Linked DNA regions of Homo sapiens. The protein of the gene in region 1 interacts with the protein of each later gene in a biochemical or structural test. Each region holds a gene or a part of one and is shown in the gene's direction. Other genes may lie near its edges.

Region 1 (3,652 bases):
CAAAATGTTTGTGTGATGGCAGAATCAATATTAGAACCTAATTTTTTTTTAGAAATTATTGCTCTAATGTATGGTGGTTGGCTAAAATTTCTTGTCCACTTGTAAATTTTGGCTGACAGAAAAGCAAAAGTGAAAATCAGATCACAAGCAACTTGCAAACATGACTTACTCTGACATTTTTGGCAATGGCTCCGAATGTGAAGTGGTTTGTCACTGAGAGGGCACTGTGGAGGGAGCCGGTGAATCACCCCGTGGCAGCACCTTCCTCGTGGGCTCTGGGCGTGTCCCTCAGTATTCAACTTTTTTTGTTTTTATTGTCAGAATAAATTAAACTCGTCATTGCCGTTTTGTTCTGTTCTGTTTCTCAGTTGAGGCTAATGCAGCATGATTATGGGATCGGCTAGCTGAAATTCTCATTCTTCAGCGGGGCCAGTGACTTCAGTGTGTGACTGTAAAATGCGGGTTCCTGGGATGTCCGTAGCCCTCTCTGGACCCTGTTTGTGCAAGGGCCACTGCTCTCAAGATGTCACTTTGGTGCTAGGGTGGCCTGTGTTCTATCCCAGTGTCACTTGGGTGCTGGGGTGGCCTGTGTTCAATCCCGCAGCCCTAACCTGCCCACGTGCTTCTGCAGGGTGAAATCCGAGCTACAGCTTTCAATGAGCAAGTGGACAAGTTCTTTCCTCTTATTGAAGTGAACAAGGTATGGCCGTGCTGACTTTAGAACTGACACCGCCTGGGGGTGGAGTGCGGATGAAAAGACGCTGGCCCAGGGGAGGGGTGTGTGGTGGCAGACTAGGGGTTTCTGTCCGATTTGATGGTAGTCTCAGGTTCTGTGGCTTGGCCTCCTTCGCAGGTGTATTATTTCTCGAAAGGCACCCTGAAGATTGCTAACAAGCAGTTCACAGCTGTTAAAAATGACTACGAGATGACCTTCAATAACGAGACTTCCGTCATGCCCTGTGAGGACGACCATCATTTACCTACGGTTCAGTTTGATTTCACGGGGATTGATGACCTCGAGAACAAGTCGAAAGACTCACTTGTAGGTAAGCTCGTGTATGAGAAGGAAGAGCAGGGATGACTAGCTTTCTTTGCAGTGTACGGGGTGGTGTCAGGCTTCAGTGCTTGCCGTTCATCATTTGCTGGCGTCGGAATGGGAGTCTTGACCACCTCCTGCTAACACGTGCATGTGTTTTAGACATCATCGGGATCTGCAAGAGCTATGAAGACGCCACTAAAATCACAGTGAGGTCTAACAACAGAGAAGTTGCCAAGAGGAATATCTACTTGATGGACACATCCGGGAAGGTGGTGACTGCTACACTGTGGGGGGAAGATGTAAGTGCTGGGATGGGGTCTTCAACACGCACAGGACCTCCTGGGGTTGGGGCGTGGTCTTGTCCTATAGGATGGGGCCTTCAGCACACACAGGAGGAGCTCCTGGAGTTGGGGGAGGGAGTGGTCTTATCCTATAGGATGGGGCCTTCAGCACACACAGGAGGAGCTCCAGGAGTTGGCGGAGGGGGCATCTTGTCCTATAGGATGGGGCCTTCAGCACACACAGGAGGAGCTCCTGGAGTTGAGGGAGGGAGGGGTCTTGTCCTATAGGATGGGGCCTTCAGCACACACAGGAGGAGCTCCTGGAGCTGGCGGAGGGGGCGTCTGTTCCTATAGGATGGGGCCTTCAGCACACACAGGAGGAGCTCCTGGGGTTGGGGGAGGGAGGGGTCTTGTCCTATAGGATGGGGCCTTCAGCACACACAGGAGGAGCTCCTGGGGTTGGCGGAGGGGGCGTCTTGTCCTATAGGATGGGGCTGTTAGCACACACAGGAGGAGCTCCTCGTGGGGGCGGTTTTGTCCTATGAGTTGGGGGCTTTCACCATGTAGATGGGAAGGATTGTGCTGTCTGGTAAGTATTTAAAATCCTTTATCTTACTTCTGTGAGATTTGCTGTGATTCAAGCTTTACGCGGGGAAATGCTCTTTCCCCTAACTCTAGGAAAGCAGTGATAGTTTTGATGTGTCTCTGAGTAGATTCTCATGTGTGAGGTCTGTCTTGTATGGATTCCATGTACGCTGATTACATTCACTCTACTATTGAATGTTTGCCTTGTTTTCTATAAAAATCTTCTGTGTTCTTCCTGCTAGTGACACTTGTATATGTCTGGTGTTTCTTTTACAGGCTGATAAATTTGATGGTTCTAGACAGCCCGTGTTGGCTATCAAAGGAGCCCGAGTCTCTGATTTCGGTGGACGGAGCCTCTCCGTGCTGTCTTCAAGCACTATCATTGCGAATCCTGACATCCCAGAGGCCTATAAGCTTCGTGGATGGTAGGTTTTGTGGGGCTAAACAAAGGGTTACTTGAGGCTGGGCTTTGAGAAAAGCTGGTTACAATCAGCATGGGAGCTTTCTGCCAAGCAGAAGCCTTCGTCCCTGAGTGGTGCAGCTTCCGTGTTTCTTGAAGGCATTATGCCTTCTGTGAGGAGGGCTTTAAAGCCCTTAAACGGACAAACCTGTAATCCCAGGACAAACCTAGAGAGTCGGAGGAGGCAATTAGCATGTAAGTGCTGCCTGCTGACCTCGATCCTGCCAAAGGAGGGGACGGCCAGGCTTCAGCAGCGGTGTGCTGAAGGCGCCTTTCTTTCCAGGGTTTAGGCTCTGGGCCTCTGTGGCGTGGGGGAACACATGCTTTCTTTCTCTGTCAAGTCTTTGGTGCCGATCACATCTTCTAGTGTGTATTCACTAGACTCTGATCAAGTGTGGTGAGAACAATGGGCTTTTTGTTAGGATTAGATTGTTATTCCCAAAGCACTCAAGGGATGAGGAGAGCCTGTTAAAATCTCCTCACTGTATCTAGCTTTTTAGGACATTCAAACTCTGTCTTAAAAGAGTACTTCAAACTGAGACACAGGATGCAAGAATTGATGTGGTCAGGGAAAACACTTTCACCCAAGCTTCAATAATTCCCATAGCTGTAGTCTATGGGGGGGAAGTGTGTCAGTTTCCAGCTGTGTCTTAGGATTTAAGCAGCTAAAGAATGAGCTCATTTTACATACTCCTCCTTTGTTTTGAGTCATTTAAACCAATGGCACTGGTGTTTGACCAGTTTCATGAAGCATCTTCTGGAATGTTCATGTCACTGAGCCATCCTCATGAGTAGTACGGTCCACACGTATCTGCCGAACTGCAGGGCCCGTTCATAGTCTGACCAGAACTAGCCACAGATTTGCTTTTTTCTTATTGCTTGATTTTCTTTTAGGCTCTGGAGTTCGACTCCAGGTTAATTGCATTCCCACATTAAAATCGCATTCCCACATTAAAATTGCATTCCCACATTAATGTCTTCATCTTTTACTTGTCAATAATCATGATCCCAGTCAACATAAAAAGCACGGCTGTCCCCAGAATAAAATAACTTGGCATTGATCAAAGACAAGCTCAGTGCATACATGATACCTGGACAAGGATTAGAGATGTTTAGATCTTGGCTATAACAATGCAGAGTTTTTATTGTAAGAAGGGCCGCCTTGACTCCTGACGAGTGATCTTTGGTGGCAAATGTCTCCTTGGAGCTTTTGAAACCGTGAACTTGTGTAGCTAGTAGTGGTGAAACAGATGGATGGGCCTTGCTGTGCCCCTGTGAGGGATTTAG
Region 2 (3,652 bases), on another chromosome or scaffold:
TTTTGAAACAGGGTCTCACTGTGTCACCCAGGCTAGAGTGCACTGGCACGATTTTGGCTCACTGCAACTTCTGCCTCCCAGGCTCAAGTGATCCTCTCACCTTAGCTCCTGAGTAGCTGGTACTACAGGCATCCGCCACCATGCCCGGCTAATTTTTGTAGAGACAGGGCTTCACCATGTTGCCCAGGCTGGTCTCGAACTCCTGAACTCAAGCAATCCACCCACCTAAGCTTCCTAAAGTGCTGGGATTACAGGCATGAGCCACCACGGCTAGCCTCAAAATACATTTGTGAAAAATTATCGCTTGTTGGAAATTGAATTTTTAACTTACATAAACATCTTTCTGATGAGCTCCAAGAACATTTCTATGACTACAGTTTCTACATGTTTGTATTATGCTAAGAGTTATTTCTTATCGCTTTTTTAGGTGGAATTGAGACTGGATCTATCACAGAAATGTTTGGAGAATTCCGAACTGGGAAGACCCAGATCTGTCATACGCTAGCTGTCACCTGCCAGGTGAGCTGTTGGGGCTATAGCTAATCAAATAAGCAAGCATTACTTCATTCCTGCTATTTGCAAGCATCTGTTAGGATGGCCATAAAAGGTACTTTCTCTGTCCTCAAGAATCTTATAGCTGTTAATAGTTAGAAGATAGACTCCTACTTCAAAATCCTTCCATGTCATAGAAACTTCCAAATCATTGATCTCCTATCAGATACGTTAATTTCAAATACTTTTGCTACCAGGCCTTTTCCTGGCTTTACTTGCTACTTTTTTTTTTTTTTTTTTTTTTTGAGGCAGAATCTCGCTGTGTCGCCCAGGCTGAAGTACAGTGGTGTGATCTCAGCTCACTGCAACCTCCTCTCTGGTTCAAGTGATTCTCCTTCATCAACCTCCCGAGTACCTGGGATTACAGGCGCCCACCAGCATGCCCGGCTAATTTTTGTGTTTTTAGTAGAGAGGGGGTTTCACCATGTTGGCCAGGCTCCTCTTGAACTCCTGATCTCAAGTGATCCACCCACCTTGGCCTCCCAAGTGCTGGAATTATAGGCGTAAGCCACTGCGCCCAGCCCTCCATCTTCTTCATTAGTCTAGATTTTATGATTCATCATTAAAGTAATTCTCTTGCAGATAGCCTCAGTTTACATACCCACTTGAAGAGATGCCAACCTTAGATGAAACTCATCTATCTTCTCAGTGTCTGTACCCAAATAGCTGATTATACTGGAGAAAAATCGTATCATACAGCTGACTGACTTCACTTTAAATTCAAGATGACAGGCCAGGCACGGTGGCTCACGCCTGTAATCCCAGTACTTTGGGAGGCCGAGGCGGGTGGATCACTTGAGATCAAGAGTTTGGCTGGGCGCGGTGACTCACGCCTGTAATCCCAGCACTTTGGGAGGCCGAGGTGGGCGGATCACAAGGTCAGGAGATTGAGACCATCCTGGCTAACACAGTGAAACCCCATCTCTACTAAAAATACAAAAAATTAGTTGGGCGTGGTGGCGGGTGCCTGTAGTCCCAGCTACTTGGGAGGCTGAGGCAGGAGAATGGCGTGAACCCGGGAGGCACAGCTTGCAGTGAGCCGAGATTGCGCCACTGCACTCCAGCCTGGGCGACAGAGCGAGACTCTGTCTCAAAAAAAAAAAAAAAAAAAAAAAAAAAAAGAAGAAGAAAAAAAAAAGATCAGGAGTTCAAGACCAGCCTGGCCAACATGGTGAAACCCTGTCTCTACTAAAAATACAAAAATTAGCTGGGCGTGTTGGCACGTGCCTGTAATCCCAGTTACTTGGGAGACTGAGGCAGGAGAATCGCTTGAACCCGGGGGGCAGAGGTTGCAGGGAGCTGAGATCGCACCATTGCATTCCAGCCTGGTCAAAGAAGCGAGACTCTGTCTCAAAAAAAAAAAAAAAAAAAAAAAGAATGAAAAAAGGAAAAAAATTCAAGATGACAAAACTTTAGATTAACATTCAAAACTTCTTGGCAGTCTACTTTCTCCATTTAGGTGTACTTTCCCACTGAGTTAGACAGGCATCTCATATCTCATACTTCGTCTTCTGTTATCAGAACTTTATGCTCCTCTTCAACTCTCATTCTTAGCCAAAAACCTAACCTGCTCTTTGCATCAAATCTACATTTGTGCCCATCTTTTCTTATCTCAGGTTACAATTGAGAAAGTGTCCCTTTTCTTCTCAAAGGCCCATTCTATCAATATGATTTGGTTACCATCTCCTGCCACCTTCTCAAGGACTCTACTCCTTCCATTTTCTCTTGTACCTCTCTATGAGATTATCCTCATCAGTATACAAATATGTCTAGTGTCTCCTCCATTAGGAAAAAACCTTCCCTGGACCCCTTCAGTTTCTTTTTCCTTTACTTATGCTCCTATTGGTGGGAAGATTTGGAAATAGACACAGTAGGTTAAATAATTGCCCAATACATTGTATTTAAGTAGCAAATACTGGACTCAAACCAGACTTCAGAGATGATGTTCTTAAAACTTCATAAGAGGCCAGCATGGTGTTTCATGCCTGTAATCCCAGTACTTTGGGAAGCCAAAGTGGGAGGATTGCTTGAGACCAGGAATTTGAGACCAGCCTGGGCAACATAGTGAGACCCTGTTTCTGAGATGCCATTTCTAAAAACAAACAAACAAAAACAGACAATTAAAAATATTAGCCCAGCATGATGATGTGTACCTGTGGTCCTAGCTACTCAGGAGGCTGAGGTGGTAGAATCTCTTGAGCCCAAGAGGTCGAGGCTCCAGTGACTGGGATCGTGCCACTGCATGTTTTCTGCTGTATTGCTAGTGCCTAAGGCAGTGTTTGGCTCTCAGTAAACAATAAATGCTTGAATGAGTGGAGATAATAGATGTCCAAAAACATGCCTGATATATAAAATGAATGTCACAGAGGAAATGGGTTAGCTGTTTAAGGAATAGAAAGGGGTAATTTCACCCTAGAGTGATCATGGAATACTTTATGGAGAAAAGATTTTGGACCAGACTTCTGAAGAATGCTAAATTTGGGAAGGAAGGAAATTAAAAGCATTTAACTGTATAGAATGGGATGAACAGAGGATGGGAAGGCATAAGTTAGAAGGAAAAGACAATAAATAAGCAAGGTCATTTAACTGGTTTAGAGTTTGTGTAGAAAAGTTGTAGGAGATGACCCTTAAAAAGATACATCAAACTGGGCATGATAGCTCACACCTGTAATCCCAGCACTTTGGGAGGCCACGGTGGGTGGATCGCTTGAGCTCAGGAGTTTGAGACCAGCCTGGGCAACATGGCAAGACCCTATCTCTACAAATAATATAAAAATTAGCCAGACGTGGGCTGTGCCTGTAGTGGCAGCTACTTGGGAGGTGGAGGCGGGAGAATCGCTTGAGCCCAGGAGGCCAAGGTTGCCATGAGCCAAGATTGTACCACTGCTCTCCAGCCTGGGCAACAGAGCAAGATTTTGTCTCCATCTCAAAAAAAAAAAAAAAATTAAGATCCTATTTCAGAAGGTTAAGAAGTTTAAACTTGATTTTATGAAGAGTAAGCATTAGCTGGTCAGGAAACTAAGATAGTGACAATAAAGAGAAGTAGGGAAAAGATGTTGTAAAGGGCAGCGCTTGATGACTGACAATAAAAAATACACCT
Region 3 (3,422 bases), on another chromosome or scaffold:
TTCAGGCGTGTGCCACCACATCTGGCTAATTTTTTTTTTTTTGTACTTGTATTTGTAGTAGAGATGAGGTTTCACTATGTTGGCCAGGCTGATCTCAAACTCCTGACCTCGTGATCTGCCCACCTCGGCCTCCCAAAGTGCTGGGATTACAGGCGTGAGCCACCGCGCCTAGCTATATTATACTTTTATACAACTGGCAGTGTAGTAGATTTGTTTATACCTGTATCCCCACAAACGTGAATAATGCATTGCATTGTGACATGATGATGGTTATGACATCACTTGGTGATAGGAATTTTTCAGCTCCACTGTAATCTTATGGGACCAGTGTTTGTGTGGTCCGTCGCTGACATGTCATTATGTGACACATGACTCTATGGCATCCTGAACTGCAGAAGGGAGTAGGGGCCTAAGGCTTCTAGGGGGTGGTGGTGACACAAGTTATGTGGGGGGATGGGGAGGAAGTGCACTACAGAGTCTCTCAGGTAATAAAAGTTGTCTCAGAGCAGACCTTAGATAAATAATGCATGACAGTCTGTGACAAAGACTGGCATCTAGTCTTCTCTCTTGTGAGACCAGTTCATTTTCCCTGGTTGAGATTCCCAGGAAGGGGATTCATGATGTTCCTTTCAGATGACCTGCCCTTAGAGAAAGAGGGGCAAGAGACAGGAGGGCAGGACATGGTCAGAGAGACCTTGGTTCAAAGCCCTCAGCGTGCCAAACCACCATACTTTGGGGTATTGTTTTCTGAGATCCAATATTACTTAACCTCTCAGAAAAGTGGGAATGGTAACTATAGACTCAGTGGGGTTGTTGAGGTTTAGATGAAAATACATACAGGTGCTCCTTGATATACGATGGAGCCACATCCTGATAAGTGCATCATAAGCTGAAAATATTGCAAGTTGAACCATGGTAAATCGGGGACCGTCTGTGAATACATAGGTCAGAACGGTGTCTGGCACGTAGTCAGGATTTGCAGTTGTTCTCACTCAGCATTGGGTCTTAGTCTGTGGTGGGATAGAGCAGTGAATAAAACAGACCCGATTTGGGCACTGATGTAATTTATAGTCAGGTTAGTAAGGCAGATGTAGATTAATTTCACATGTACACATTTAATTGCAATTATAAGTGCTAGAGAAGAAAAGCATGAGATGCTGAGAGAATGGGTAACAGGGTTTCTAACCTAACAGTTATGTGGCCCTGGGTACGTGACTTTCCCTTTCAGATCTTGAACTCCTTCATCTAGAAAATGGGAATATTGGCACAGCTTTGCAGGGTGTGACAGCTGGTGTTGTGGAGATGGCATGCTAATATGCTGGTAACAGGGTGCCTGATGCTCACTTAAGATGCTACATGAATGGGAGCTACTGCTGTGTGTGTTGATGAAATTCTCGTCCTCATTAGCAGGTTGTGAGCAGGATACAAGATATTTCTTCTTGCCCCGTATTCTCCTGAGCCCTGCTCAGTGTGTTTGTATAACAAAGGTGTCCATCCTAACAATATGGCTCACCGGTTTTCACCCTGTACTGTACCTGGTGTTTTGATTTAGAACCGAGTTAGGTAGCTGAAAATACAGCGTGAGCTTTTTAATGGGGAGTTGGTTGACTCCAGGTGTGATCCTAAATCTAGAAGGAATTTGGCCAGATGTTCATGAATTTCTGGAGTCCCATGAGGAATGTTGCCCAGCCTCATCTGCCTCTTATCTGGTCCTGCTCTGTGTTAGGGGCCTGAGTGCCCTGGGGTTGGAACACTATGAGCTAGAAAATGCTGATGGACTGTTCCACTTACGAGCAAGTAGTGAGCACTAGGCATAAACAAGCTGAGCTCTGAGGTTTTTCAACTAAACCTAGCCGAACTGCAGTTGCCCAGAAAGCTCAGGTGAGAAGGGGGGGCTGGCATTGCTTTATTCATTCATCCCACCAGTGAAAAATGCCAGGCACTGAGGGAGGCACTGGGGGTAGTGTGCAGGTCAGCCTAGGGAAAACAAACAGGAGCCTGCGGTGTGATAAATACTAATTAGAGAAGGCCTGGTTGTTTGGGAATCTGTTATTAGGGATCAGTGTTCAGACTAAAGGAGGAAAAGCCTTCTCACAGTTGCCTCTTATCTTTCTCCTCAGAGCATAGCGGCCTGACCACAGGGGTGGCCTTCGGGCATCACGCCAAGTTCATCGCTTCAACAGGCATGGACAGAAGCCTCAAGTTCTACAGCCTGTAGGCCCTGGCCCTTCTGATGGAAGCTGGGCCTCATCTCAGTAGAGGGGTAGAATTAGGGTTTGGGGGGGGGGGTGGGGGGAATCTATGGGGGGAGGGGGCTCTGTGGGGTGGGACATTCACATCATTTCACTCTGGTCTGAGTGGTGGCCTGAGAACCATGGTGGCATGGACCACCCTCATCCATGCAACTCCAGGCCCCATGGGAACGGATGTGGAAGGAAGAACTGTCACCCTCTTAAGGCCCAGGGTCGGAGCCCAGGGCCTCTCCCTTCCTGTCGTTCAATGGACGTGGTGGTGGCTGTTCCACACCCATTTTGTTGCAGTTCCTGTGAGACAGGAGAGGCTGAGCCAAGGGAACTGTGAAGGGGATGGGCAGGAGGGCTTGTGCAGGGTTTTGTAAGCAGTGATCTAGTTTCATTAAAAAAAGAAAACAATAACCATAACCACCTCCCCGTGTCTGTCTGCACCAGGAGCACCTGGGACTGGGAAGGTCAAGGGGAGGGAGCACACACTGGGACACTGGCTTCCGGGAAGCCCATCTTCCTTTCCTTTCACAGCTCTTACCCTTTTTTTTTTTTTTTAATTGCACAGCAGAAATAAAAACAAATCTGCAGATGAAATTTGCCATGTCCCTGCGGTTCTTGACCTTGTGTCTAAAGGCCTCAAGTCACTAGTCCTGCCACTTGCCTTGTAGACTTGGTTTCCTACACAAGCCTGGAAGGGAGGGAGACCTGCAGGGAAGATTAGCTGGATCTTGCTGGTGGGGAGGTCTGAGCATCTCCATCAGGGTTCTTTAGTTGTAGGCTTTCTAGCCTGTCCTCAGCTGGCATAAGTCAAAAAGGAGATTTTTTTATTGACTCTGGCGATTGAAAAGCTGTGGTAGGACTGGTTTCGGGACAAAGATCTGATAATGAATGTGCCTTATAGGGAATTCCTGTAGGGTCACGTGACTGCTTTAGATTGCAGGTCAGGAAAGGCCTCTGAAGTGGTGGTGATGAAGCTGAAGCTGGAATGAGAGGGACCTGAGAGGGGAGGAGTGTTGGCAGGCAGAGAGCAGGTTCTAGGGCTGGACTGAGCGAGATATATGGAGGAACAGGAAGGAGGTCATGGTGGCAAAGTCGGGGGAACCATGGTGTACAGTCTGGGGTGATTGACAGTCCCCTGACAAGGGCCATCCCAGTGGAAGGTCGGGGCTGGCTGCCTCC

What was found.
Region 2: the proteins of RPA1 (region 1) and RAD51 form a complex in vitro, tested with the Homo sapiens proteins (2 studies listed by BioGRID).
Region 3: the proteins of RPA1 (region 1) and PRPF19 form a complex in vitro, tested with the Homo sapiens proteins (2 studies listed by BioGRID, with this or other methods).

What each region holds. Positions count from the first base shown.
Region 1 is NC_000017.11:1,878,362-1,882,013, forward strand, and holds part of RPA1 (replication protein A 70 kDa DNA-binding subunit), read left to right. Parts: intron 1-631; coding exon 632-700; intron 701-853; coding exon 854-1,046; intron 1,047-1,198; coding exon 1,199-1,338; intron 1,339-2,181; coding exon 2,182-2,330; intron 2,331-3,652. UniProt on the Homo sapiens protein: As part of the heterotrimeric replication protein A complex (RPA/RP-A), binds and stabilizes single-stranded DNA intermediates that form during DNA replication or upon DNA stress.
Region 2 is NC_000015.10:40,708,598-40,712,249, forward strand, and holds part of RAD51 (DNA repair protein RAD51 homolog 1), read left to right. Parts: intron 1-427; coding exon 428-519; intron 520-3,652.
Region 3 is NC_000011.10:60,889,962-60,893,383, reverse strand, and holds the end of PRPF19 (pre-mRNA-processing factor 19), read left to right. Parts: intron 1-2,120; coding exon 2,121-2,218; 3' UTR 2,219-2,837; downstream 2,838-3,422. UniProt on the Homo sapiens protein: Ubiquitin-protein ligase which is a core component of several complexes mainly involved pre-mRNA splicing and DNA repair. Required for pre-mRNA splicing as component of the spliceosome.